Homo sapiens: one gene and its partners. The protein of the gene in region 7 interacts with the protein of the main gene of each other region in a pairwise test. Each region holds a gene or a part of one and is shown on either strand. Other genes may lie near its edges.

Region 1 (2,636 bases), on a different chromosome or scaffold from region 7:
ACTGAGTGAACCATCATAACCACAACTTACCCCCTTAATAGGGACTGACGTCCTGGGCAGTTCTCTTTTGAACCGGGATGTTTCTACATTCATCTTTTTAGGCTATTTCTTCCAATCTACCTTTAAAATTATCTTCTAATCTGTCACTTTGACACAATGGGTCTTTTAAATAAATCTTTACACAGTACTGAATAATTAAGTAAATATAGTTATTGGCAAACAAAGAAAAAGAACCTTTTTGTTAAAATATTTGGGATACTCGAGATAATATAAAATGAGTAATCTCTTATTTTTCTTATGCCAAATTTAAAATCTCTTTCTTTTCTCAAAAATAACGATCTAACGATAGCCAAAAACTCCCTTAAATATATTTCAATAAATCATTGTTTCTGCACTTAAGTCTTACTGTAGGACAATACAAATCAATGAGGAAAATACGCCAGATGGAAGTGTTAGGTTTTTTTCTTTGTTCGGGAACAAATACTCGATCCGCAATTTAAAAGTCCGAAGACTCCTCAGCAGAGGGTGAGCTGATTGACTCTTTGGCTTATCAAGGGCAAATCGCATTTCTGAAAAGAGCTTGAAGTGGTTTTGTTTGTGAGGAGAGTTTGCTTTGTCCCCCACACTGAAAAGTATACAGCAAAGCCCGAGCATAGAAAATATCCTGAGCTTAAATTTCTCATTTTATTGCCATCATAACTTTTCCTCTTGGAATAAAATCCTCTATTTTATATGAGTAGGAGGTAAAGGTAGGGAAAGGAAAGTCAAGTATCTCAATTGTTACGCTGATTGCATCCAAACAGACTTTAGAAGTCAGGGTTTGTAACGTGGCAGGAGAGCTGTTTGCGATGCCCTGGAAAGAAAAGAAAGCCGGTTCCAACAGCGACTCTGGGGAATGCACTCTCGGTCCCCCTGCCATGCTTACTTAAGCTAATTGAAGGTCTTGCCTTTCAGCAGCCGCTGCACTGGGATACCAGACAAACAGCTCCCCTTGATGCCAGGCAGGCAGGGCCCCTCTTCAGGACATCATTAAAAGCACATGCACTTGCTCCACATCCATTGGCAGATGGTGGCAAGATTCAAGACTCCTACCCTGAAGTCAAGGAGAAGCCATCGCGGTGGAAAACATCCTCGCTTTGAAAATCCAACACGAAATTAAAGAACTACACGAGATAAGGAGCCTGGAGAACATTAGTTGGCTGCAGGGGTGAAGACAGACACAAAAAGCACAGCAGGTAAGAGCTGGGGGTTGTTGCCAACAAGGAACTGTCCCGGGTGGCGCAGAGAAAAGGATCTCAGAACTGGAGCCCTGTCCCTTTGAGTCTTCCATGCGTGCTCAAGCTTGTCATCTTCCATAAGCTTCGAGAGAAGGGACGTTGTCAGAGCATTCCTTATCGGTGCGACTAATCCTGTTATCAGCTTGGTTATAAATATTTAATGTTCCCTGGCCTTTCGGTGATGGTGCCCCATCAGATTCAAGGCTGTTAAGAATCCCCACCAGCAACCTCGCCCCTCCCTGCGGAAAACCGATGAGAGGCAGGGCCAAGCCGAAGCGATGGCGGCCTATCCGGAGAGCTGCGTGGACACTACGGTGCTGGACTTCGTCGCAGACCTGTCCCTGGCCTCCCCGAGACGCCCTCTCCTCTGCGACTTCGCACCCGGGGTCTCCTTGGGGGACCCAGCCCTTGCGCTCCGAGAGGGAAGACCCAGGAGGATGGCGCGGTTTGAAGAGGGGGACCCAGAAGAAGAGGAGTGCGAAGTGGACCAGGGGGACGGAGAAGAGGAGGAGGAAGAGGAGCGCGGAAGAGGTGTCTCCCTATTAGGCCGCCCCAAGAGGAAAAGGGTGATCACCTACGCCCAGCGCCAGGCCGCCAACATCCGCGAAAGGAAGCGGATGTTCAACCTCAACGAGGCCTTTGACCAGCTGCGGAGGAAGGTGCCCACGTTTGCTTACGAGAAAAGGCTGTCCCGGATCGAGACCCTCCGCCTGGCCATCGTCTATATCTCCTTCATGACCGAGCTCTTGGAGAGCTGTGAGAAGAAGGAAAGCGGCTGAGCCTGGTGTGGAGAGTCTGCCCTTCCTCGTCTGGTAGTGCTGGGGTGTGTCAGGACCGGGCACTGGGTGAGGCTAAAGGGCCGGGAGGGAGGCCCCAAGACAGAACGTCTGGTCTTCTGGAGGTCGGGGTCGAGATTGTAAGATCCCCACATGCGCTGAGCAGAGTGGCTGCTGTAGAGTTCATATCTACGCGACCGCCCTAAGTGAAGTCGGGGTCAGGGGCGAGCGGGGAAGTCAGAGAGCGTGAGGCTGAGTCGGGGCCGTTCAGGCTGCTCCTAAGAGCTTCCGTGGGCTGGGTGGGTGGGAAGTGAACCCTCCTCGCAAATGGCAGACTTTGGAGCTTCTATAAAATCTAACCTCTCTTCTTTACATTTTTTTTTTCATAGAGATAATAAAGTAGAAATTCTTACGTTTTTAAAAAGCCTGAAGGGTCGGTGGTACGCCATCCCCAGCAGGCGCTCCAGCGGGCGCCTGCGTGGAGGGTCTGAAGCAGACGCCGCAAGGGTGCGGGGGTGCGAGCTTTTCTGCTAGCCAGAGGGTTCTGCCTGGTCCTCCGAGGCTTGTCCAGGAACTGAGGAAA
Region 2 (3,500 bases), on a different chromosome or scaffold from region 7:
CATTTCATTGATTATAAGCAGGGAGAACTCTTACCCATTAGAAGTAGTTGGGCTGTGTTAAGACTGTACTGAAAGAAATCACGCATGTGCAAAAGAGATCACGATTCATCTACATTAAACCCACATTAAGGAGCACAGTAGGTGTTCTTTGAAGGTAGAAAGACATATTCCTGAATTTGGTTAATGGGAATTCTCTGTAAAAATATATCACTGCATCATAATGCTAAATAGGCTTAATTGCTACAGAAAAGTTTCTTTGAATCTGAGACACCAAGATGCCACTGGAGAGAAAAACTGCTGCCAGTTAAACTATGACAATACTTTTTTTATCAGAGGATTAAAATTTTACACTTACTGAAATATCTTTTAATCTTAGCTGGATATAAATTATATCACATTCCCTCTTGGGCATATATGAAAAGGAAAGCATAAGAAAATAAATTATTTAAGGCAAAGACAAGTAAGTCTCAAGTGCCACCTGTCAGACACCATTAATTTTAAGATGCCTCGAGATGTTAAAATGGGAATAACTATGTCTAAAAACTGATGAATCATTTTAAATAAGTATCTGGAAAGGTTTTCAGCTTTTATTATTCTTGTAGTTGTCCCAGGATTTACGGAATGAAACATCCCGGATGTTGGTGTTTTTCTCACAGGCAGCATTGTCCAGTTTATCCCTTCTAGCATGTGGAATGAGTTACCAGAGCTCACTGCAAATGTTCACCTAAGACTTGTTTTTCCATATTCTCCTTAGATGCTCTGCCTGGAGAGAAGTGATACAGTGTTTCATTGTCTGTGTATCTCTCATAGCTCAGGACCTATAGTTCAGGGTACCAACAAAACTTAAAAACCCATCCATCAGGAGCATCCTGCAGCATATCTGAAGCCTCAAATTCTCTGAGAAGTAGGGTAGAGAGATTCTTCTCTCCTGTTCTCTTGGTCATGCAAGCAGAAATTGATGTAGTGAATTATAATATCCAAACTGAATAGTTAGGACTAAATATACGTAGGTTTGTGAATAGTTTCTATAAAGGCTTACTTTTACTATCCTGTTTCCTTACCTGTACAATAAAAATGCTTATTTGTTAATATAAGGAATGTGATACATCTGTGAAAATAAACATGGCAGATAATATTAGATTAAAAAACTAAATCTAAATTTATATAGGGTATGATCCCATTTGTGTAAGCAAATAAAAATATTCATGTTTATCTTTATATGCATACACATGTACATGTGTTTGCTTGCACACACATGCATGTATGAATACAGAAAGATCTGGAAGTACACAGCAAAGTGTCTCTACAGGCCTGTCCTTGGGGAGAATAAAGGATTTAAGTAGTGTGGTAGCATAAGAGAGCCTACCATTTTTCTGAATCCTTCTCTAGGATATTTTCCTTTTTTTTTTAATCGTGAACAGGTATGTATGTGTTACTTTTTTTTTTTTTTTTTTTAAACAGGGTCTTGCTTGTCACCCAGACTAGAGTGCAGTGGCATGATCATAGCTCACCAAAGCCTTGATCTCCTGGGCTCAGGGATTCCTCCTGCCTCACCCTCCTGGGTAGCTGGGACCACAGGAGTGCTCCACCACACCCAGCTAATTTTAAAAATAATTTGTAGAGACAGGGTCTCAAACCCTTGCTCAAGCAATCCTCCTCCCTAGGCCTCCCAAAGTGCTGGGATTACAGGTGTGAGCCACCACATCAGTTTATGTGTACTTTCATAACTTAGATTTTTATTTAGTTAAACATCTAAGTGTAAGGCCAGGCACGGTGGCTCACACCTGTAATGCCAGCACTTTGGGAGGCTGAGACAGGTGGATTGCTTGAGGCTGGGAGCTCGAGACCAGCCTGGCTAACATGATGAAACCCCATCTCTACCAAAAATACAAAAATTAGCCAGGAATGGTGGTGTGCGCCTGTAATCCCAGCTTCTTGGGAGGCTGAGGCATGAGAATTGGTTGAACCCAGGAGGCGAAGGTTGCAGTGGAGCCAGGATCATGCCACTGCACTCCAGCCTGGGCGACAGAGCAAGATTCTGTCTCAAAAAAGAAAAAGGCTGGGCACGGTGGCTCACATCTGTAATCCCAACACTTTGGGAGGCCGAGGCCAGTGGATCATCTGAGGTCAGGAGTTCAAGACCAGCCTGACCAACATGGAGAAACCCCATCTTTACTAAAAATACAAAATTAGCCGGGCGTGGTGGCACATGCCTGTAATCCTAGCTACTCGGGAGGCTGAGGCAGGAGAATTGCTTGAACCCAAGAGGTGGAGGTTGTGGTGAGCCAAGATCGCGCCAATACACTCCAGCCTGGGCAACAAGAACAAAACTCTGTCTCAGAAAAAAAAGTAAGCACAGACTTCTTATATTAAAATGTAGAAATTAAGAGAGAGAGTGTGTATGTTTATGCTTGCTTGTCTAGTGTTTGCATAAACACTGGAAGGATACAGCGGAAACTAGAAGGGATTACTGATAGGGAAAGATACAGATAAGAATAAGAGTTAAGATTTATCAATTTTTACCTGTTTATATCTTGATCTGCTCAGGAGGCTGAGGCAGGAAGATCACTTGAGCCCAGGAGTTTGAGGCTGCGGTAAGCTATGATTGTGTCACTGCACCCCAAACTGGGTGACATATGAAGACATTATCTCTAAAAAAATTTTTTAAATAAAAAACAAAAAAGTGTGGACATATTAAATTTTTTTTTTATTTGAGATGGGGTCTCACTATGTTGCCTAGGCTGGAGTACAGTGTCACAGTCTTGGCTCACTGCAGCCTCTGCCTCCGAGGTTCACATGATCCTCCCACCTCAGCCTCCCAAGTAGCTGGGACTACAGGCATACACCACCACACCTGGCTAGTTCTTGTATTTTTTGTAGAGATAGGGTTTCGCTGTGCTGTCCAGGTTGGTCTTGAACTCACAGACTCGAGCAATCTGCCCGCCTTGGCCTTCCAAAGTGCTGGGATTACAGGCATGAACCACCATGCCTGGCCCTAAAATTTTTAATAAAAAAAGTTTAGGCTGGGAATGGTGGCTCACACCTGTAATCCCAGCACTTTGGGAGGCTGAGGTAGGCAGATCACGTGAGGTCAGGAGTTCGAGACCAGCCTGGCCAACTTGGTAAAACCCTTTACTAAAAATACAAAAAATTAGCCAGGTGTGATGGTAGGCACCTGTAATCCCAGCTACTTGGGAGGCTGAGGCAGGAGAATTGCTTAAATCTGGGAGGCAGAGGTTGCAGTGAGCTGAGATCATGCCATTGTACTCCAGCCTGGGTGACAAGAGTGACTCTGTCTCAAAAAAAAAAAAAAAATTGAAAACAAAATGAGTTTTTTTCTGTGTACTTCATAAATAATGTTGGTATTAAAGATTGAATTAATTTGGTTCAGAAGTTTGAAACTCATTTGTAAATTTTATTTACATGTTTGTTGGCAGTATTTTGCAAAGGTCAGCATTAACAAATGTTTTCAGCCACATGCAATGCCACATGCCTGTAGT
Region 3 (4,002 bases), about 46 Mb from region 7:
CCCCAATAGGTTATGGGTGTCATGACTATAAGATATGTCATACGCTTACAAATCCATTCAGCTAATTCTTCATAAAATTATATTTTAAATGTAATTTAAATCTTATCCATGGTGTAAAGTTCTGATTTCCTGGATGGCTGATGTTTATTCCCCTTACAGCACTATGGTAAAATATAAGGACGGCACATGTTTTGTGGTTTGTCCTTATAATGTCATTTAAAATGGAGGTTTTTGTAATGCAGGAAAACAAATACATGAAGTCCAATCCATCTACAGCCATACCACCCTGAATGCACCCAGTCTTGTCTGAAGTCCAATCCTAGTTGCTGTTAATGTTGTCAAAAATAACTCTTGTCTTCCTGAACTCCAACATAGTTGTCATTTATTCTTTTTTATTTTTAATTTATGTTTTGTAAAAATATAAAATTTACAGAAAAGTTGCAAGATTATTATAATCAACTCATATGCTTTTCACCTAGATTAACTAATGTTTAGAGTTTTGCCACATTGATTTCATACCCACTATTCTATTATATAGCCATATTCTCTTGGATAACCCCTGTATGTTTATTAAATTTGGGGAATTCAACAATGAAAAATGCAGTTGTTTAATATATAGCTTATATTCAAATTTCCCCAGTTGTCCTAATAATTTCCCTTATAGTTTTTTTTCTGATTCCAGGATCATGCATTACATATAGTTGTCAATCCTATTTAATCTTTTTTAATCTGGACCAGTTCTTCACTCTTTCTTCGTCTTTCATGACACTGGTATTTTTTAAGAGAATGGACCAGTTGTTTTGCAGAGCGTTCATCAGTATAGGCTGTATTTTTAAATACTTTTTTTTCACTCAACACTTATTCACAGTGACTCATGCCATGCAATATGTAGGCTTTAGGGATGTAAATACTAATGAAAGAGATGATTTCAGCCTTGAGCTCACAATCTAGTTAGACAGACTCAAATGAATCACTAATTTGAAATGATAAGTACAATAACATATACCTACAGAGGGTTCAACTAATCTGTCTGGGGCAGTTGTGGGAAAAGAAAAGGGTGATAATATTTGGAAAATTTTGTTTTCTTTTTCTGGTAAGAGTCCTGAAATAATGTTCTTGAAATTCTTATGCATTGCGTGTATTACCACACTAGCCTATAGGCTTTTATTTCATAACATTGAGGGAGTGAATATTATCATTCTTTTATTTATATTTTATGTTTTACAACTTAAATTGGTAATGTTTTTTATTTTTAAGTGCTAGGCCTGGCAGCCTATCTCTGGGAACTGACTCGGTCAAAGACTGGGGGTGAACGTGGAGATGGTCCTAATGTCAAGGGAGAATTTCTGCCAAATCTGGAGCCTGTTAAAATACCAGAAGCAGGTAAGTTATTCATTAAAAATGCAAATTATGGGGTTTCTGTTTTCAAAAATACTATATATTTTATAATATAGAGGTACCACTACTGCTAATATAATTTAACAGAGTTCATATATAAAGATTCTTTGAAAGATAGTTCAGTCCCCAAAAGCCTGACTAATAAACAAGCACCATCATAGATCCTACCACATTGGGTCAAAGCCACATTCAATTATAAAATGTGAAGGTATTTTCTTACTTTTTAGTATCAGTTCCTAAACCAACAGCTAGTAATATCAGATACTTTTATAAAGGTCTGCTTTTAATAAATACCTAATGAATTTGTAACAGATATTCACTGTATGAAACATGCTGAGGCAATTAAGTAGGCTCTAATCCAAGCTCTAACAAAATTTCACTGACTTTGGGCAAATTCCTTATCTTCTAAACCCATATTTGCTCTTATAAAAATGGGTCAAAATCAAATATATTAAAATTTGAGTAATCAACTTAAGTACGTTTTACACATGTTTTTTCCAAACTTCTAGGCATTAGTTATATGAGCTTCTGAATTTAATATAAACACTTAGTGTTTAGGAAAGAAATTATCTTGCATTAGTCTACTGCTTTTGCTCTACATTCCTGATCCATTCCATTAGAATATTTAGATTAAAAATATTTTTCAGGCTATGTTCAGGAACCTATTCAACATATACTCATAGGAAGATCATTGCTTTAAATACATGTTATTAAAAAATAAAAATATAAAATTATATGAGCATTCAATATAAAAAATAAGAAAAAGGCACAAGATAAACATAAGGGAGAAGGAAAAATATACTTAATAAAAGACAGGTATAAGTCTTTATTTAAGGGAAATAATTCAACTAGTAAATAAAAGAGATTTTCAACATATCTATGAATAGAGGATCCCCTAGTTTACATAATGTTGAAGAAAATGGGCAAAGCTCAAGTATACACAATAAAAAATAGGAACAAGACAGGACAGATATTGAATGTGTAATATAATTAAAAGTGGATACATTCTTGAGCTCTAAACAATTTTCAAAATTTGATGCAATGTTTGATATGCTAGCAAAACATAAAATCATTTACTATACCACAGTAGTAAATGAATATTTAAACATCATAACATGGATGAACTTTTAAAACTTGCCAGAATTTTCCATCAAAAGTATTTATCATTTAGAAACAAAAAAAAAAGCTATTGTTTGTTTATTTGTATTTGGCTTTTCTAGATTCCTCAGTCTCTTCTCTTTCTCTCTCTCCTCCTCTCCCTCTCCTTCTGATCCCCGTTTTGCCAAATTGTGAGAATCATTACTATTTCTTTTTAACACTTCATCTATAATAATAATGGCTTGCAACCAGTGTGACGATATAATTTATTGGACAAACTGGAATATTTTTAACTGTGCAAAGAGGCATTATTGATAATTATACTAGAACCACAGGTGAAAACAGAGACAAATGGTTAACCTACTTAAAACAACCATATAAAGAGTAAACTAATCAAAAACATTTTAGCATTTTCCCATAACAGAAACAAAACAAATATAATACTAGCCTTTCTATTTATGCCACTTAAGCACTTTCAAATGTGTCATTACTGTTTGAGCTATCCTATATTCAAAACATTATTTCAAATTTCTTTTGTTTCCTAAGTTTTATGTTTGCTTATGTTTGGTTAGTTGGATTTTTTTTTTCTAAAATTACATGCAGTTTTTAGTTTCTAGTTAAAACTTTCTTTAAATAGGTTCATTTGATCAAATCATTTCGAACTCAAACTCTTTCTTATACACTAGAAAAATGAGTGGGATTTTAAAATATTGTTAATATACCTGAAAGCCTACCTTCAAAGTCTCTATAGCGGTTTAACTGGATATAAGCCAGAGGGTTACCTTGTTATAGTTCATTTCATAAAACCAAAACTATGCCTTTTTTCAACCCGTAGTGTCATCATAAAAAGTTCTGCTAAAAAATACTCTCAACTATTATGTTTATCTTATAGGTGAAGGGCAACCATCGGTTTAAATGAAGACAAGCTGAAACCATACATGCAGTCTTTATGTTGGAAACTTCACCAGTAAAATTCTCTCAATAAAGTTTCACAATTGTCTGCAAAGAAGTCTTGTGCAACTTATGTCAAACTAGGAATAATTAGGTGTTTCATGCTATTGAAAATTGTATCTTTTTTGAAAATTTATATTTTGTTTGAGCTGGTATATAGAGATATAATTTTATGTATTGATTTTTCTCTCCAGAAACCTTGCTAAATATGCTTATTAATTCCAAAAGTTTCTCTCTAGGTCCTTTTTGATTGTCAACATATACAATCATGCCATCTGTGAGTAATAATACTTTTCAGTCTGCCTTTTAAAGTATGTTACTCTTCATTTCCTTAATTCATTTTATGACATTGGACAGACTCATCCAGTACAATGTGGAATTGAACTGGTGATAGTGGACACCCTCATCTTATTCCTGATAAGAAATGGAAAATATTCAACATTTTACCATGATTTACTGTAGATTTTACTTGCAGATATGCTTTATCAGAAGTTCCTTCTATTTCTAGTTTCCTGAGAGTATTCTTCTTGGATATATGTTGACTTTCATCGACTG
Region 4 (3,500 bases), on a different chromosome or scaffold from region 7:
AGGAATTCATCTTGGTGTGGCAGAAAGAAAGAAGGGGAAAAGGGTGCATGCAGATACAGATAAAAGGGTAGGGGGCAGTGAAAATCAGAGAGATTTCCAGTCTGACGTCTATGTTCTTTATAGAGTGGGAGATGTTAATGAGCTAAGAGTGAAGTGGAAGGCAAGAGATTTCAGGCGATAGACTGCTGAGATAGCTGCTATAAGGAATGAGAGACTGTTTAGGTGCATGAGTAAAGATAACCAGACAGTGTCAAGACTTGGCTGAGGCTGAGTCCCTGAGGCTGTGGGATATCAGTAAGTTCAGTTAGTGAGATCTGCTCCACCACCTCTTAGCCCTCCAAAGGTAAGAGTTGAGGTGCTAAGATTGGAGTTTGCTGGGCAAGAGATGGATAAAGATAAAAAAGCAACAGAGGGTTTCAGCAGTGGGCTATATCTTCCAGCCGGAATAAAGAACGGATAAAGCTAGTGGTAGAATAGGGAACATTAGGCCACTTCAGGGACCTGAAGTCTGAGCAGGTACAGTGGAGAAAAGTAATAAAAGTGTTAATTAGATAGAACATTGCAGGCAGAGTGGTTGAGAAATAGTATTCTCTAATAGTTAAGTTCTCAGAACGTGTTGAAGGCCAAGACTAGCCTCCTGAATCTGCCAGCCCCACGGATGTAATTCCATAGAACTTGAATGTTAGTAACATAGCAGTGACTATACATATATATATATATATATATATATATATATGTATGTATATTTTGATTCCTGAGTTAATAAACTAATGAAAAATTCATCACCATCAAATCATTTTTAAATAGAAGCTTAAGAGTGTGTGTGCATGTGTGTATGTATGTACATGTGTGTATGTATGCACATAACACACGTGAAGAGTAGCCTATTGGAAAAAGTACTTCATTGTAAATCTATTCTACAAATTGTGCCCTCATTTGATGGTGAAATTCTTACCGAGCAGGACAAGATCACGCACTCCTGGAAAACAACTATAATCTCTCACTTGTTACACAGGTTATTAGTTCACCCTTATGACCTGTTTTGATTACCAAAGGTGAAAGTCAGAATAAGATAATGCTTTTTGAGACCTAGAACCACAAATTCCAGTTTTAATTTTCTTCCTCCATCACTTCTGCTGCAACTTAGATTCAGGATCTTAGAAATGGAAGAGACCTCAGAAATTGCCTCGTCTGGTGTGACTTTATGGAGGACCAGAGTGACAAGGCAGCTTTCCTAACATCACACCGGCAGTTAGATGTAGAATTAGACAGGCTCTCCAACACTTCTTTCCATCACACTTTGCCACACCCTTAAGTACTGATGTACCAGAAGTACGGCCTACCCTTTATCCTCTTCCTGAACCTAAAAATGCCTTCAATTTAAAGTCAAGACTCATGAAATAAGGAGTCCTAGGTCTCCATGTATTTAGGCATCAGCAACTGTTCTGGCATCTAACAAGCACAAAGGGTCATGCAGCAAGGGCCAGACAGTGATGCTCCTGCTGTGGGACCTGAGCAGAAGCCTCTTTCTCTAGGTGGCGGGCAGCCTTGTCCCTCCCCACATCTCTGGCTACACTTCCTGCAATAAGTTCTTACCCACACAGCATCACCGTGCTATTTGGTAGCCCCAGAAGTGATTTGTGCTGGGGGTTTCCAGGCTTAGTGCCAGACACCTCTTGTCACCCTCATGGTGTGACAACACAGAACCCCCAGACTGTTTCTCTCCACTTATTCTGGCCACACCCTAGACAGATACAGCAAGAAGTTCATTTCAGGGTGTGGAAAAGCAGGCAGTGGGGTTGGGGCAGCTGTACAGTGATCTAAAGAAGGAGGCTCTAACACAAGTAGACACCCATTGCAAGCCCAACCCTGGAAATCCTTTACTGCCTCTCAAACTTTAGGAAGCCAGCAAGATACCAGTTGCAGCTTCAAGGCAGCCTTGAGGCAACCTTGTCACCAAACTTAGTTCATGGCAAAACATGGAAACAAATGTTGTTTGGGCCTTGCTCTTCCCAGGCATGTCTCCATGCTGTCAAGGTCCTTGTCCCATCTTGGGCTGCTTTCCCCTCCTCCTCCTTAACCACAGCATCAGGTTCATTGTTGCCCCACAAGTCATTTGCTGCTATTAATAGCTCAAGTTCATGAATAATTTACTGCTTCAAATATAAATTATGGGGATTTAAGGTTATCCCCTATAATAATATCACTCTGACTCACTTGCATTCCGATACGCTTCCTTGCAATGGAGACAGAGTGGTGGTGCTAAGTAGCATGCCAGGAATGTCACACAGGCCTGATCACACCCATGACCATGCAGACTATGTGTATGTCATTCCCAATGAGTGTTACTGAGAAGAAAAGGCTGAGGACTTCCTTCCAGAAAACAAGAAGTCAGACCTTTAATTCCAGAATTGCATGAAATCCAATCATCAGTTAGAAAAATTTCAACAAAACAAAAACTGGCATCATCTCTGTCTTTCAGGGGCTAATAATGTAAAGAAATGGAAAGTTAAATCCAGTGATAGATACGCACGAGACCATAGGCTTTCCACCATCATATCCCTTCCTTTGTAGACTAATTCTTCCATGAATCAAATGCTTGGGTCACGCAGAATATTTGCAGCCCCCAAATGTAGCAGAAGCTGTAGCAGCAGCATTACCGTGAAACTAAGATTATTTAGTCCTTCCTGTGTGCAAGGCATTTTATAAGAGTAGGCTCATTCCTGCCTACCCATCATTCTTTAAGGTGGATGCTATGATTATCCCCATTTTATAGATGAGGAAACCAAAGTTCAGAATATTTAAGTAATTTGCCCAGGTTCCCAAAGTTAGTAAGTTACAGAACACAGGTAGCAGCCTTCCAAAGCCCATATTTGTAACCACTGCCCTGTTCTGCTCCCCAAAAGAAAAAGGTGACTGGGAATGAAATACACCTTGAATGTTTGAACGGGGTTCCCTTAGCCTGGAAGACCTTTCCTATACTTCTCCACTTATTAAAACCCTACACTTCCTCCAAGGCTTTGTCTCTACTCTTCTTTCTGTAAGACACCTTTCCCATCACAACTAATGCACCGTGCTCCTCCAGCAATCTGTTGAAATCTCTACTGCATCCCTTACGGTCTACCATGCATTCTATTAAGCACTTGCCTGACTGCATGTGAAATTCCCTCCTTCTTCCTTTGGGGTTATGTACAAAATCTGCAGATGGGACAGGGCTATCCTAGAGACCAAAACCAAAATTTCTCTTTCATTTAGCAGGCCACATCTCAGGCCTTGGTCTACCCTCAAACCGTAGCACAGTATTTTGCACAAAGCAGGTGCTTAGTATGTGTTTGCAGAGATATAGAGGAGTTTGGCAGAGGACGTTCGGCCTTTGGAGTAAAGAAGACAAGGCTGAAACTTCAGTACCCTCTCAATTTAGCTGTGTAACTTTGGACAAGTTATTTAATCTCCACAAGCCTCTGTTTCCTCCTCTAAAAATGGAGGCAATATGTACATCA
Region 5 (3,500 bases), on a different chromosome or scaffold from region 7:
TAGGAGAGTTTAGGAGAATACCTAAAGGAGTATACATTCTAATCATTCACCTCTAAGTTACTTTAAAAACATGGGTACTTAACAGGTCTAGTATGATCACAGGGTTTCTCTCTCCGCACAAACTCCCAAAACACAATACACTTCACCTGCTTGCTAATGGCTGAAAATACCAAGAGAAAAAGCCTTTCATTCTGCAATTAGAGATAAAAGGTTTAAATTACAACTGCCTAGTTGAAGTAACATTTTTCTGTGAGGGAATTTCAGATAAAGGATAATCAATCAATCAATCTGTCAATCCATTACTCAGTAAAATGACATACATAGAGCCAGTGTGCACACAAATAGCTGGAGAATTAGTGATCAAGAGGGGAAAGAGAACATGCAGGACCCAGAGGACACACTTTGATGGTTTTGACAATTCTTCCCAGGGTGATACTCTTTACCTGCTATGTGAGCAAAACTGATAGTGACTTCAGCACATGTGAATGCTTATATGATAGGCAGCTCTACTTTAGAAGGGGAGTAAAGATTCTTGATTTTCCAAACATACACTTGACCCAGGTAAAGGCCTTTTCTTCCAGGGGTTTGTTAACCAAGGTAATTAAGTTTATCCTTTTCCCCCAGATAAGGTTTATAGCTCCTTAGTTACACATTTACCTTTAATTCTTTGGGCAAGATCATATCCTTTCATGAGTCTTTTTAAAAAATGGGACCATTCTGGCAGTAAGTATTTTTGTTTATTAGTTTTGATAAAGGGAAAGAATATTTGGCTTTTGGCTTCTTTTTCTGAAATTTTTCCAGATTTTTATAAAATGAGATTAAAATATCCTCAGATTCAGCCTTACTGAACCCAGAATTGAGGGCTGTTAGTCATCTTTAGTTCTGTTGCTATCCACAGTTGCCTCCTTTAATTGCGTATTCTACTGGGTAGTTGTTGGATATCATCTACATTAATTTCTCACATATGGCTCCTAAGCACTTATATGAGAAATGCTTCTAGATTCCCTGACCTCAACCAAAATAAATTAAACCAAGATTTCTAGCCTTTATTGTGTTAGAGGTTTTAGTGCCCACATGGATCCTACAGATACATATTTTTAATCATCTCCCCCAGGAAATTCCAAAGCAATTAAAGTTTGAGAACTACTAATACACATCTATTATTCGAAATATACTATGTATATTATTCCAGTATAGTATTCCAGTATACTGTGCTGGAAAGTGCTACCAAGGATTCATTCAGCCTACATTACCTGCTTTGTGTTGCAGAGTAAAGGCAGTTATGGTGTAAGATTTAAGGTATGGCCTAGTGATAGATAAGCTTCCTTTGTTGTTGTTGTTGTTGTTTGTTTTGTTTTGAGCCTGGGAAAAGACAGAGCAGAGACCACAAGGGGTAAAGGAGAGTTGCACTTAAACTATTTTGCAATTAGATTTCAAAGGAATTTTTAATTTTTTTTCTTTTTTGGATATGAAGGTACTAATCTTTTCAGCAAGGCTATTTACATCTATATTTTGGACCTAATACTTAGTTTTACGGTAAGATATGAAAGAGAAGTTTTCTAAGGGGGGCATCAAAGGACTAGAGGAGGAAAATTGTGGTGAATTTGGGGAAAACAATAAAATCTTTGTGGACCCTGTGAGCATCTGACCTGAATTTTGGGACTAAATTTCCAAGTACTAATGTTAAAATGAGGATTTTATATATATATATATATATATTTTTTTTTTTTTTCCTGTTTATTTTGCCTAAGGCACTTGGCCTAAAGGACATGATGCTGAGCTACTGAAAGTAACTGAATAAGAAAGTAGGTCAGGTACTTTGGGAGATTACATATACACACACACACTTAAATACACACACAGGTACACATATACATTAACATAATATTTTAGGCCAATTCTCTTCATACAGAGAGAGCTAATTGTTGAATATGATGCTGATGAAACCACTTTTCTACAAAATGCTGGTGGGATAACTTAACAGTATTTCTAGGGTCTCTACTAATTCATGGAGGGAATGGGGAGTAGCAAAAGAGAAACAATAAAATGAATAATCTGCCATTTACTGTGTTACTAGACCTTCTAGACAAGAAGGAGTCTCATCTGTGCTCGCAGAGATAGCACAATAATTCTCCAACACTAAATCCATCCCATCAAAAGTAGCCACAGAACAAGTTAACTCCCGACGTCCAACTGCCCTCCTGATGTCACTAGATTCCACACTTCCTTGTCATCACATTCCACATTCTCCTCTGTTGCTAGGTACCCTGGGCACTCTTATTTTCCAAAGCTCCAGGTGCTGTTTTCCTTGGGACTCATATACAGAGTCTTTGGTTCAAATGCTATGGTACCCAGGCTGAAACCTTGAGAGAAGAACCACCGCCTTGGCCCAGTGAACCTGAAGGCCATACCCACAGACCTAAATACTGCACCTTCTGTGTAGCAGCTACTCAGGATGGACCAAACTATGTTGGGTAAGGAAGCAGATTACCCCTTTAAAGTGATGACCTGATATGAATTGGTTACAGGAGTCTGAGATCCGCGATTTTAAATTCTTAAAAAGTATCTTTTAGGGAGAGAGGGAAAGAGAATAAAAATGGTTAACATGATTACATGAAACTCAGCAATAGAAAATTCTTAATTTGTCCTCAGTTTAATATCTGCTTACTGTTCTATATGGTATTTTTAAAATAAAGACATCAAAAACTTTGTTTTAAATTTGGATTTATAGGACAGTGTTGTGAGACATTATTGTTTTTTACCATTTAAATTGCAAAATATGTGAGTATGTATATTTGATACAAATGAGTAAATCATGTATTTGTTTTTCTTAAAACATACTGATTTACTCAGGAATGAAATATGTAACGCTGTTGAATTTAGTTACCTTGGTAACATCTGGAGTGAACTACTCCATCTAAAAATATTTTCTACCTTATTGTTTATACTTTTTATTGATATAAAAACAAGGCACTTATTAAAGCCTTTCCTGACAAATAATAATGTTTACCTTACCTGAAAAATAAATGAATGATATACCATTTATTAGATATACATAATGATTTCAGATTGAAGAAACAGATGTAGGATGTTTAGTTTTTAACCAAGATAGATATTGGATTTGTCTTATGCTAACGTAGATTTTATTTTAAAATATAATATATACTTAGGGTTATTTAACCTAATAACATATTGACAAAGCTTTCATACATTAAATGTTACTATATTTTTTAAAGGATTCTAGAACACAAATGTTAAATCACTTTTTTTCATGAATTAAAAATTGGAGTTGAATATTTTCATTGTGCTCTTCTTTGGACTTTTGTGGGAAATAATAAAGTAATAAAAATCATCTTCATAATTTAGCGTAAGAATTTGAATTGGCATAAAAAGAACATGCACACATTTATCTAAATTACTTATATAAGTCATCCCCTTAATTCTGCATTTCAGAAACCCTAGACATTTCATGTTAAAATAATATTTTGAATCCCTGGATT
Region 6 (2,439 bases), on a different chromosome or scaffold from region 7:
ACTGAGGAGCGAGGTGGGGACTAGTCATTGGATCAAGGGGTCTGCACTGGGTAGGGCGTCATGTGGATGGGTTTTGTTTTAGCCAAGAGGTGAAGGATGGACAGGAGGGAGACCAACAGGGAGACCTGTCAGGCTGATGTCAGGGGCCAGGTGGGGTGTGGTGGGCTTGTGTGACGCAGCGGCAGGCATGCGGAGGAAGCACCCAGCATCTGAGTTTTGCAGTGGGAAGAGTGGGTCTGGACTGGGGGTGCCTCTCAGAACTGTGCTGCTGGCTGGACTGGGAGGCAGGCAGGTACCTGGTGTCCAAGCATCACCTCTCACCCACCATACTTTGTTAAATCCCTGCACCCATCTCTCCCCAACCTGCCCAGCTCTGCTGGGCTTAGTATTTGGGGCAAGCCCCTCTAGGGAAGAGAGGGGCTGGTTTGGCCCCAATGCTGAACTTCAACTTGGCCCTTGTCAGGAGCTGTGAGAGTGGTGCCTCCAGGCTCCTGGGCTCTACCTCTGCTGTTTTTTGGATTTCTGGTGAATCACCTAGGAATCAGTCTGCAGATCCTGGGGGGACGAAGTCATTTAGGGTCCAGTCCCTGCCTCCCACTCCCCTAATGATGAAAGAAACTGGAAGTTGCCCAATCTTGATCTCCCCGAGACACCAGAAGGTGGACCCTCAGCAAAGAGCCTGGGGCTCCACAGTGGAGACGTCACAGGCGGGATCCTCATTTATGGGATACCAAGCGAAGGCTGAAAGGCTGGGGAGCTGGTTCTGTGGGTCCCAGCAGCCCCACCCCAGTTCTGATTCAGAAAGAGGACTGTGCCGCCCACGCAGGGGGAGGAGCTGGTCAGCCTCTGTCTCCCTGAGCCCGTCCTGTCCTTTCCCTTCTCTCTCTGAGGACCAGGACTCAGGGTGGGGTGTCCACTAACTCCACAGGGATCGAGGTTAGACAGCAGGAAGAACTTACAGCACATCTCCAGGCTGACTGTTCATAGGAGCCAACTCATAGACTCCATCTCTTCCCTGGCTTGCTGCCTGGAATTGCTGGATTTACCTTCGCGTCCTTAAATGTGGTCATGTTTACTCTGGCAGCATCCTGGCTTGCAGGGGCAGGGGAGGCATTGTCTTCTGCAAGAAAGGTTCTGTCTCTCTCAAGTTTCAGGGAAAGTGTGTCCGAGGCTACTGGAACTCTAACCAGATTTGCAAAATCACTCCTCTACTCTGAATGCCTGCGGATGAAGAAACAGGCAGGGTTATACCATGGATTGCTGGCTTATTTCACAGCATTTAACTTTGGTAGGAGCGCTGGGGTTTAAATGACAGTCCCCTGGCAAAGAGGCTTTTGTGCCGTGTGGCCAGCCCGCGTTAATCCTTTGCCTCTCATTCTCTGCTTGCAGCCTTATGATCTCCTCATTGCGTCCCCCTCTGCCCACTGGACTTGGACTTCAGATCTGACCCCAGACCTGCCGGCTACCTCGGGAGGGCCCACCTCCCCGCCCATCCAGCAAGATGCCAATCCTCAAGCAACTGGTGTCCAGCTCGGTGCACTCCAAGCGCCGTTCCCGAGCGGACCTCACGGCCGAGATGATCAGCGCCCCGCTGGGCGACTTCCGCCACACCATGCACGTTGGCCGGGCCGGAGACGCCTTTGGGGACACCTCCTTCCTCAATAGCAAGGCTGGCGAGCCCGACGGCGAGTCCTTGGACGAACAGCCCTCTTCTTCATCTTCCAAACGCAGTCTCCTGTCCAGGAAGTTCCGGGGCAGCAAGCGGTCACAGTCGGTGACCAGGGGGGAGCGGGAGCAGCGTGACATGCTGGGCTCCCTGCGGGACTCGGCCCTGTTTGTCAAGAATGCCATGTCCCTGCCCCAGCTCAATGAGAAGGAGGCCGCGGAGAAGGGCACCAGTAAGCTGCCCAAGAGCCTGTCATCCAGCCCCGTGAAGAAGGCCAATGACGGGGAGGGCGGCGATGAGGAGGCGGGCACGGAGGAGGCAGTGCCCCGTCGGAATGGGGCCGCGGGTCCACATTCCCCTGACCCCCTCCTCGATGAGCAGGCCTTTGGGGATCTGACAGATCTGCCTGTCGTGCCCAAGGCCACGTACGGGCTGAAGCATGCGGAGTCCATCATGTCCTTCCACATCGACCTGGGGCCCTCCATGCTGGGTGACGTCCTCAGCATCATGGACAAGGAGGAGTGGGACCCCGAGGAGGGGGAGGGTGGTTACCATGGCGATGAGGGCGCCGCTGGCACCATCACCCAGGCTCCCCCGTACGCCGTGGCGGCCCCTCCCCTGGCAAGGCAGGAAGGCAAGGCTGGCCCAGACTTGCCCTCCCTCCCCTCCCATGCTCTGGAGGATGAGGGGTGGGCAGCAGCGGCCCCCAGCCCCGGCTCAGCCCGCAGCATGGGCAGCCACACCACACGGGACAGCAGCTCCCTCTCCAGCTG
Region 7 (3,500 bases):
GTATGTAAAAAATATTTGCATTGTGGTACAAATCTTTTATGATTGCTGAAAATTATTCTTAGCAATTGATGGTAGAGCTCTGATGTGAAATCATGTTTAGGAAAGCATTCCTTGCAGTATTACAGTTTTCTGAAACACAGCACTATGGGTACAAATGTCATAAAAAGCTCCAAGAAAACATTTCAAAAGTGTTTTTGAATGTATTTCTTTACCTAAACCTAAATTTTTATACTCATGGCCATTGCTTCTTTTATTAAAATACAGTTAATAGCATCAATCACTAGATTGCTTAAAAATGCTTTTCTTATTGTGCATTAAGTTATTTCTACCCTTTTGAGGGTTCTATTATATAAGATACTTTTTTGTGTGCTTTACGTAATGAATTGTGCAGTATTTCATGGAAGCATCTCCTTTGAATTGTAGGACATTTTATAAATGTAGAAATTAAAGTCTGTGCTTATAACTCTTTCTGCACATTTAAAAAATAGAGACTTTTAATTATTTGCTTTTTTTCATCATCTGTCAATTAAGTGATTTTCAGTTATACCAACTGGAATTGAAATGCGAATGTTAATACCTGAAAGGTTTTACAGAAAATAAGTGAGTAAATCTTGCTTTTTGAAATGATCTTTGCATTTTATATTTTAAATATCCTTCTGAAATTGCTGAACCATAAAGTCCCATATTGATGTCAGTATATGCAAAGAAACTACTTTTCAACATTAACTTTTAATCCATTTTCATTTACTATCTAACTGACATTAAAGAGGATCTTACTGCAAAAAGAAAAAGGATGAAAATGGATAAAACTTGCAGCAAAACAAAGAACAAAAGTAAACATGCTTTGAGAAAAAAGCAACTTAAAAGGTATGACTGTTGGCTTTTTTGCATAATGATATTTATATCATTTCTTTGTATTAGTTGGTGCAAATAATTTCAAAAACTATCCTGTACATATTGGCGTCTCTAGTGAACAACATATTTTACTTGATTGTTCTCTAAGTAGGTAAGTTTCTTTAGTTTTATAACCTCAGTTTAACAGAATTAAGAGATATTACCTAGAAGCCAATGAAGATGACCTCTTTTTGCCTTCCAGATAAAAATAGCCTTCTTGTAAAATTAATGTTTATCCATTTCTAGAAATATGGTAGCTGCATATAAGATAAATGTTCTCAATGTTTAGTCTGTAGATCCTTAACGATACTCAATTATGTAGAAAGGGATAACCTTATGTTGTAAATAAGTTATCTATTTTAGTTAAATTGTTTTCACTATTTCTTTTACAAAATCATTGGTGTGCCAAAGTGGAGAAATAGTTAAGTGAAGTTTTTCTTTTGGGAAATCTTATGGGATGAATGGCTATGATATTCTTGAACCTACTTATGAGAACCCATATGTTATTCAGTAAGAGGAAATGGAAAGTAAACTGCTCTTAGAGAAAATGTTTCTGGGAAAGTTATAGTGCAGTAAACCCTCCTTTGTCTTCAGCAGGTAAAGAATGTAAGATAGCTGCTCTAGTAGTCAGGAAGAAAAGAATCCTTTCAAAATGAGAGTAACTCATTTCACTTTTTTCCAAAAAGAAGATTTCAGCTGCTATTACTCCCTTGCTACTTTATAGTATAAATTATGTCAAGTCAGTTTGGGTTTGAATAGGATTAATTTTTCATCTCTCTATGACGTATGACCGTGTTACTTATTATGTGTTACAGGCAGAAACGTGATTATATACATTCTCTGAAGTTGCTAAATGTCCTTGAAGAATACATCACAGACGAGCAGAAAGAGGAAGAAGAAGAAGAGGGAGAAGAGGAAGAACTAATTGTTGGTATCATGCTTAGCTTTATGTATAACCTGTTATGTCAGTGTCTCAGGTAGTAATAGTTCATGCAGAAATCCAGCAAAGAAGGAAGAGCGCATGAGCCCAGAGAGGGGGGCCCGTTAGTGGACTAATGGACTAGGGGAATATAATTGCCACGCAGCATTAGGGGTCCAACTGAAGTCAGCATCATAACGATGAAGAAGTTAAAGTAAGCCCAGTTGGCATATTTGTGCAAGCACAGCTGTAGGGTTGGAATTTCCTGGGTCGGGGTGTAGCCGAGCAGATTGATAGAGGGAGAGTTGGGCAGGGAATAGATGCAGAGATGGGGATATGATGACTGGCTGTGGAATTTCAGCTGGGACTGAGTTATCTGAGCACACGGGAGTGGGCAATGGGCAGTAAAAAGTGCTCCATTCAGTGGGTGTCAGGTCCCAACAGACTCCTGAGCTGTAGTACTGAAGTGAGTGACCTACGATGGCAGGGAGGTAGTGGCTGTATGTTGGGAAGTTGGAGAAACAGCTGAGTGCAGTGGTCAAGGGCTGGGACTATGCATCCACACTGCTTGGGATTCTAGCTTGACCATTGCTAGCTCGGAAACCATGGAAAAATTATTTATCTCAGCTTGACCATTGCTAGCTCGGAAACCATGGGCAAATTATCTTATCTACGAAAGGAGACATGGTAAGAGTACCTACGTCAGAGTTGTTTGGAGGATCAAAGGGTTTCTGTGTAACAGGTTTATTTAAGTTTTTCAGGATGTGATCTGACCCATGGTTGCTCTTTATCATTGCTATTATTAATATTACGTAGGTGTTGAAGTCATTGGGAATGACAAAATCTAGGGGATGACTGTGTGAGTGAGTGCCACGTAGAGGAGAGGAGAACACTGTTGTTGGAGATTAGGTCAGGGTGCAGAAAGGCAATCATTATTGGGTGGTTCATCTATGTGCATATTGAAATGACCGAGATTTAATACATGCTTAAAATCTTAGAAAGAATTTTTCTTAGTTAATTTCTGTATAGATCTTACCTATCTGTGGTCAACAAATTATAGGAAGGTTCATCAAATACTCTTCATTGGAAATCAAGAATTAGGACATATGTGTTGAATGTGTAAAAGTAAGAAAATTCTTTACTTAATGACTGATAAAAAAGGTTAATACATCATTTTAGCATGTTATTGGTGAACACAATTGTTTAAAATTGGTCCTAAATGTTGTCTAAAAGAAAGTGTTCAGAGGTATTGATTTAAACAGTATTCCTTTAAAGCTAATGCAGAATTATGTTTTGTAAGTATTAAAATTTACCCAATTTTTATCACTATTTTGTTTTGGGATTCTAGAGAATATTTCAAGAACAACAGAAGAAGTGGCAACAATATAGAAGTGTTAGGAGAGAGAGGCTGAAAGAGATGAAGCTGCTACGTGACCAATTCGTAAAGGTCTGTTCTATTTGGTAACATAATACATTATAAAATACAACACGTGCATAATAGAAGACAGTCTGCTTGTTTCTGAATGTATGGAAAGACATTTGATTATACATTTCAAATTACTTAGCATTTTCACTTTGAATGTATTGTTCCAGATATAATATAATTGGTAAATGTATTTTTAGGATTCATGAATAGTTTGTGGGAGTTATTTAGAACAGGAAAAGGTAAATTGGAAATTTTACCTAG

Evidence for each region.
Region 1: the proteins of FAM9B (region 7) and FERD3L interact in binary tests that used the Homo sapiens proteins (3 or more experiments, as listed by UniProt).
Region 2: the proteins of FAM9B (region 7) and RMND1 interact in binary tests that used the Homo sapiens proteins (3 or more experiments, as listed by UniProt).
Region 3: the proteins of FAM9B (region 7) and PAGE3 interact in binary tests that used the Homo sapiens proteins (3 or more experiments, as listed by UniProt).
Region 4: the proteins of FAM9B (region 7) and MAB21L3 interact in binary tests that used the Homo sapiens proteins (3 or more experiments, as listed by UniProt).
Region 5: the proteins of FAM9B (region 7) and NOL4 interact in binary tests that used the Homo sapiens proteins (3 or more experiments, as listed by UniProt).
Region 6: the proteins of FAM9B (region 7) and CDC42EP4 interact in binary tests that used the Homo sapiens proteins (3 or more experiments, as listed by UniProt).

The regions. Positions count from the first base shown.
Region 1 is NC_000007.14:19,144,282-19,146,917, reverse strand, and holds FERD3L (fer3-like protein), read left to right. Parts: upstream 1-1,496; 5' UTR 1,497-1,555; coding exon 1,556-2,056; 3' UTR 2,057-2,136; downstream 2,137-2,636. UniProt on the Homo sapiens protein: Transcription factor that binds to the E-box and functions as inhibitor of transcription. DNA binding requires dimerization with an E protein. Inhibits transcription activation by ASCL1/MASH1 by sequestering E proteins.
Region 2 is NC_000006.12:151,417,627-151,421,126, reverse strand, and holds part of RMND1 (required for meiotic nuclear division protein 1 homolog), read left to right. Parts: intron 1-3,500. UniProt on the Homo sapiens protein: Required for mitochondrial translation, possibly by coordinating the assembly or maintenance of the mitochondrial ribosome.
Region 3 is NC_000023.11:55,257,915-55,261,916, reverse strand, and holds the end of PAGE3 (P antigen family member 3), read left to right. Parts: intron 1-1,257; coding exon 1,258-1,383; intron 1,384-3,388; coding exon 3,389-3,411; 3' UTR 3,412-3,502; downstream 3,503-4,002.
Region 4 is NC_000001.11:116,114,399-116,117,898, reverse strand, and holds part of MAB21L3 (protein mab-21-like 3), read right to left. Parts: intron 1-3,500.
Region 5 is NC_000018.10:34,022,414-34,025,913, reverse strand, and holds part of NOL4 (nucleolar protein 4), read left to right. Parts: intron 1-2,262; coding exon of another isoform or gene 2,263-2,474; intron 2,475-3,500.
Region 6 is NC_000017.11:73,285,563-73,288,001, reverse strand, and holds part of CDC42EP4 (cdc42 effector protein 4), read left to right. Parts: intron 1-1,389; 5' UTR 1,390-1,501; coding exon 1,502-2,439. UniProt on the Homo sapiens protein: Probably involved in the organization of the actin cytoskeleton. May act downstream of CDC42 to induce actin filament assembly leading to cell shape changes. Induces pseudopodia formation, when overexpressed in fibroblasts.
Region 7 is NC_000023.11:9,027,628-9,031,127, reverse strand, and holds part of FAM9B (protein FAM9B), read left to right. Parts: intron 1-531; coding exon of another isoform or gene 532-560; exon of another isoform or gene 561-767; coding exon 768-867; intron 868-1,709; coding exon 1,710-1,821; intron 1,822-3,161; coding exon 3,162-3,260; intron 3,261-3,500. UniProt on the Homo sapiens protein: May play a role in meiosis.